Linked DNA regions of Homo sapiens: region 1 is linked to region 2. The links come from fine-mapping of genetic effects on gene expression. A gene starts in region 2. The other region holds a variant in brackets. All regions are shown on one strand. Distances are between the middles of the regions. Region 1 overlaps PPP2R5E (protein phosphatase 2 regulatory subunit B'epsilon). Region 2 holds the start of PPP2R5E (protein phosphatase 2 regulatory subunit B'epsilon).

Evidence for each region. PIP is the estimated chance that this variant, and not a neighbour inherited with it, causes the effect.
Region 1: its variant is the best candidate, but not a certain one, in a credible set for the expression of PPP2R5E in esophagus mucosa (GTEx, PIP 0.86).

Annotation. Positions count from the first base shown.
Region 1 is chr14:63,503,449-63,506,362 of GRCh38, forward strand. The region is part of intron 2 of PPP2R5E (protein phosphatase 2 regulatory subunit B'epsilon); the gene reads right to left. Among named protein-coding and RNA genes, the nearest start is that of PPP2R5E, 38 kb to the right of the region's middle. The variant C/A (reference allele first, on the strand shown) is at 1,661.
Region 2 is chr14:63,541,618-63,544,531 of GRCh38, forward strand. It overlaps PPP2R5E (protein phosphatase 2 regulatory subunit B'epsilon), which reads right to left and starts at 1,760. Exons shown (of 14, transcript NM_006246.5): 1 at 1,162-1,760. LOC112268140 (loricrin-like) reads left to right here and starts at 1,167. Exons shown (of 1, transcript NR_158218.1): 1 at 1,167-2,914. RefSeq lists silencers at 1,256-1,395, 1,436-1,575 and enhancers at 1,812-2,803, 1,866-2,075.

The DNA of each region.
Region 1 (2,914 bases), 38 kb before region 2:
CATATCCCCCAGGTAAAAGATAGCAAATCAACAACTCCAACCAATTTCTCAGGTGATTCCTATGCCCACTGAAGTCTGAAAACAACTGTTCCAGAGCAAAGGAGGTAACATAAGGCAAGCAGTAAGGGCAAAAAACACCACATTTATATCACATGTTAACACTGCAAGGAAGACAGTTGTTTTAGATGTTCTGTTTCAATACTCCCTACTATTATCCTTCCCCAAAAGCACTTTAATTTACTATATAGTTTAATGAATTTCACATCTGAAAATCATTAATAACCTGTCTTCTCTTAGGTATACTGAAACTACCAGAATTGCATGGGGGCCTTGAAAGCCCTTATTTAAGAGGTTCCGATGGCAAGATGTGAGGAAAACCATTTGGAAAAAATCCCAATCAGTATGCCTCCCTGCCCCAAAATATGCTTTACTAAGAAGGGCAGAACCCTGGTTTTAAAAGCAAAGCAAACAAAACAAAAACTCTTTCAAGTTCTGATTAAGCATGCAGTCCCAAAATCACACGCCAGTGTCCTCTGAGTGCAAAATTTGAATACATCACTTCATTATTCAGAAATGAAATAGATTAAAAGAGCTAGGGAATATGAGAAGTTTTGAATCACTCTCTAAACTACTTCCAAATTTTTCTTCCCAATCAAGAATCAGGCACAGGTATAGATTATTTCCACCGTAACACCTGAGTAGCCACTTGCCCAAGACCTGTACGTATTGTATAGATTATAAATTTCAAAGTTCCAAATACCTCTCACATTTTCTTGGCAAGCAAAACTTTTCTTGGCAATCAAAAAAAAAGCAAAAACAAAAACAAAAAAAACCCACCCAAGAAGTCAATTGGCCAGGCACGGTGGCTCACACCTGTAATCCCAGCACTTTGGGAGGCCAAGGCAGGAGGATCACTTCAGGTCAGGAGTTCAAGACCAGCCTGGCAAACATGGCAAAACCCCATCTCTACTAAAAATACAAATATTAGCCAGGCGTGGTGGCTCACGCCTATAGTCCCAGCTACTTGGGAGGCTGAGGCAGGAAAATGGCTTGAACCTAGGAGGCGGAGGTTGCAGTGAGCTGAGATCTCACCACTGTACTCCAGCCTCGGCGACAGAGTGAGACTCCACCTCAAAAAAAGAGGAAAAAGAAGTCAATCAAGTACTGCTTGAGAAACTATTTACTCATCGTATTAGATGTTTGGGGGAATGAGATACAAAAAACAAGGCTTACAGTCTAACTGGGGAGAGAAAACCTATACCCATGAAAAGCAATGGCCTGTAGAATGCAAGTGCCTTACACGTCTTAGTCACCCTTTACCCCCAGGGCATAGCATAAAATATGTGTTCAGTAAACACTGTTAAAAAAAAAATGCTGTCTTGGTCATCTTTGTCACTCCAGCATCTAGCCAAGTTCCTAATGCAATGTTTGCTGAATGAATGAATGATACCATGCTGTTCACATAAATATGTCTTGCATGACTTAGGTTAAGAAGATGGGGATCATTAAGGACTAAAGTAATCAAGAAAGATTTCATTGGGAAGACAAAGTTTTGAGTTATGAAATCTTAGAGCTGAAAGAAATCTTAAAGTATTACTAAGACCGGCCGGGCGTGGTGGCTCATGTCTGTAATCCCAGTACTTTGGGAGGCCGAGACAGG[C/A]GGATCATTTGAGGTCAGGAGTTCCAGACCAGCCTGGCCAACATGGTGAAACCCTGCCTCTACTAAAAATACAAAAATTAGCCGGACATGTTTGCTTGAACCCCAGCAGCCGAGGCTGCAATGACCCAAGATCATGCCACTGCACTCCAGCCTGGAGGAAAGAGTGAGACTCTGTCAAATAAATAAATAAATACTAAGACCATCTAATCTGGTAGCTCCAAAAGAAGTTTCCAAAGATGCCAAAAGCAGCTTTACACCTCTAAGGTTAAGAAGATAATTAACCTTGGTAATGACCACTTTAAAATTGAAGAAATCCCATAAACACCATGGTCATTACGATACATTAATAATGACAACCTGCTCACACACTGAACACTTCGCCATTCACTCTGCTCTCCCCACCCCTTCTCCACACTAAGAAGCCCATGCAAGGAGGCTGAGTTCTTCAAGCTCGTCTGCCTCCAAGCAGTCCTTGATAAAGTATGGACTGCAAGCTGGAGAATCACAGCCTTCTGCACACACTCTACAATCTGAATCTAAGCTGGTTCATAAAAATTGAAGACCAACAATCTGGACCAGCTGCATCCCCTCTCACTTGACAGAGTTCCACAGAGAAATCCATGCATTCATTCAGGCAACATTCAGTGACCGTCACATACTACCCTATTACCCACACCAGAAACTCAGTTAGGAACATAGTAGACACAGCACCTGCCTCCCAAGGTATCACTGGGTGAGGGAGAAAATACTACAAATAAATTACAAAGCAATGTGGGGAGTATTATAATCAATATGAAAAAATATATACACCCTAGGTATCCAAGAGACAAAATCACAACGTTGTGTAAAGTCAGGCAAGGCTTTCAATAAAAGGTAGTGTTTCTTTCATTCATTCTTTGACAAATATTTTCTGAGCATGTAAATATTTGCATGCTTCAAAGGGCACCATCAAGAAAAGGCAACCCACTAAATGGGAGAAAATATTTGCAAATCATATATTTGATAAGGGACTTATACCCAGAATATAAAAAGAATTCTTCACCTTAATAACAAAAAGATTGGCCGGGCGCAGTGGCTCAAGCCTGTAATCCTAGCACTTTGGGAGGCCGCGGCGGGTGGATCACAAGGTCAGGAGATGGAGACCATCCTGGCTAACATGCTGAAACCCCGTCTCTACTAAAAATACAAAAAAATTAGCCGGGCATGGTGGCGGGCGCCTGTAGTCCCAGCTACTCAGGAGGCTGAGGCAGGAGA
Region 2 (2,914 bases):
CTCACCTGTCATTCCAATAGACAAGACAAGTGGTTTTTAACTTCTAAATAAAACAGTAAGGGAATTTCTTCCTGAACACGTGAGAATAAAAAGTTACCTGGATTACGTGGATTTTGACAATGTAAAAATAACAAAAACATTTTAAAACACATGCACACATATGATGTTGACGTTTGGAATTTGGAAGTCTTCTTTGGTTTTCTTTAAAAAAAAAAAAGTTTTTAAAAATCTACCTAATTTAGCCTTAATATAATGTGATGGATTCAAAATAGAATCACAAACTATGAATGACTATAGATGTTAAGATCACTTTAAAATATCAAAATGACTGCATCAGCCAAAAGCTCCACATCTTATTTGTACGTTGTAAATTTAGGGGCCGATTTTCCATTCGGGTATGTGAATTATTTAGACTTCACTCTAACTCTAACACTACAACATTTCAGTAAATCCTCTTCCTCCATCACTCTTTTCGTCTCTTCTTTATTCCTTATCTCTCATCTCTACAGACGATATATAGGTAGCTTTTAAAAAAATCATTTACCCCTTATGCCCGAGGCCCAGAATAAACGTCAAGGATCGCAACCCTGAAGCACTGCAAAACTGAACGTAAGGTAACAGCGGGTCCGTGCAAAGCCCAGGGAAACAGGTTTCGCCCTGGGCCAGGGCTCCCGAAGCTTTATCATCCTCTAATCAGCAGGCATGGGGCATTTCCATGGCTCAGGATAATCCAAAGGGGGTAAGGGGAAGTAGGGAAAGACAGGGAAGGGGTTTGTCTGTGGGGATGCTTACATACTCCCTTTGCTCCTAACCCACACCCCAAGCCCTGGAGACGATAAGCTGCTAGAGAATCCTCCTCACACCAAACCCCTCTTTATTCCCCGCCCCCGCCAGTGGATAAAGGGGGGCAAGAAAACGCCTCCAATCCCAGAAGGTGGAGAAAAAGGGGGGAGGGGGCAGAGTGAATGAGAGGTATCATCAGAAGCATTTGTAGGTAAATCAGACAAGTGGGACGGGCGCTCCCGCTCCCGCACCCCACCCCACCGCACCCCTCGCCTGCCCGGCCAGGCCTTCCCAAGGCCGGTGCCCCATAGGTTCCCCAGGAGGACCGGGAGGAAGAAGGGAAGCGGGCGAGCCGCGGTGCTGGAGGGACTAAGTTACCTTGAAGCTTCTGGGGAAGAATCCAAAGATGATCTGTGGCTTGGAGGGGCGGGAGACGGGCGAGGTGGCCGCAGCGGGGGCGGGCGGCGGGACCGGGACGTGCAGGGGGAGGTCCGGGCAGCTGCGGGGAGCCTGGGGCGACGGCTGTCCGGTACGGGGTCCCTCCGGTTCCGCGGCGGCGGAGCCTCTAGGCCTCACGGCCGGACCCGAACCTCAGCGTTCCGGTGGCGGCGGCGGCCTCACGATCCTCCCCCGCGGGCCCGTCCCATCAAATCGGCACCGACCCCGTTGCGGCTCCGCCGGTGGCTCCTCGCTCACATTCCTGGCGGGCGGCGCCTCAGCTCGTTGCCCCGGACCCGGCGGCGGCGGCGACGACGTGGGGAGGGGGGGAAGGGAGGGAGGAAGACTGGATCTGCAGCGGCAGCAAGAGAAGGGGACAGAATAAGGAGGAGGAGCCGCAGGAGCTGGAGCCGCCGCTGCCAGAGCCACCTTTCGCTACCCGCGGTGGGTCCCAGTCAATGCCCCTTTCTCTCTCCTATTGTCAATATCACCGGGCGGCTGAGTCCATGGCACACGCGCAACCGAACCTTCTGGCCAGCAGCGCCCGCCTCCGGCGCCCGCCCACTGGAGACTTCAAACGGGAAGCGAGGCCTCATTGGCCAGTATCCGCCTTCACTCCCCTGACAGCATGTTCGGCTGAGACCTGATCAGGGATTGGCGGCAGGAGGGCGGAGAAACGGGAGGGTGGGAAGAGAGAAGGTCGAGGATTGGGCCGAAGCTTGAGGAACCCGGATGCAGCCGCGATCTCGGGCGGTGCAGCCGCCGCTTCCGCCCGGCAGTGGGGCAAGCTGAAGTGAGAAGCCGCTGGGCCTGAGAGGAGCTCTTTAATTCCGGGAGGTGTGCGACTAGCGGATCAGCGGGCTGGCTTTCCGTGCTGTGCGGAGCCTTTGGGCGGCGGTCGTCTTGGACCGGAGGATTCCAAGGGCTCGGGTCGTCTAAGGGTCGGGGAGCCCCGGAGACTTGATCCCGCCCTGCAGCTAGTGTGGCCCCTCAGGGTTTGGGGAGTCCCACTCTGGACGGGACCCTGTGATGCGTAGGCAGGAATAAGATCCCCCGCCCGTGCCGGTGTGCCACTGCTTGTGTAAATGGGCCCCTTGAAACCCCCAGCAGTCGCTCTCCGCTGAACCTTCTTCGAATTTTCTCTCACCTCATCTCCTTTTCCTTAAACGTCTGTTTTGAATATCAGACCCCTGTAGCGTTGAAGCCAGCGCTCGTTTAATTAATGCAGGTGGGAACGCTGTCGCCACAGTTTGCAGTCTATTCATTCAGAATAACCCGCCAGTCAGCCGACTGCTCAGAGCTCGGAAAGACCCAGCTCCAAACTAGGAGTTTCGAGATTTTAATTGGCAAGTTGGACCCGAAAGAGTTAATGGAGAAGACTACTTAAATCTATCTAGAACAAGTGATGAGATATTTGGAGATGTGTTTGCATGCTTGGTGAATGCAGACGGCCAAATGGTACATTTCCAGATAATATTCTTGGATTAATGTATTTGAATGCACCCTACGTACATTTTTTGAGAGGAAAAAAGGAAGAAAGAAATTATTAATGCTAACTACAAACGTCAGAGTACCAGTTGTTCAAAACTTAGAAATTGGGGGGGGGGACAAAAAAATTAACATTCTTATTTTCTCAACTCAGAGATAACCACTTACAGTATTTGCATACTTCCTTTTAGTATTTTTTCTCTTT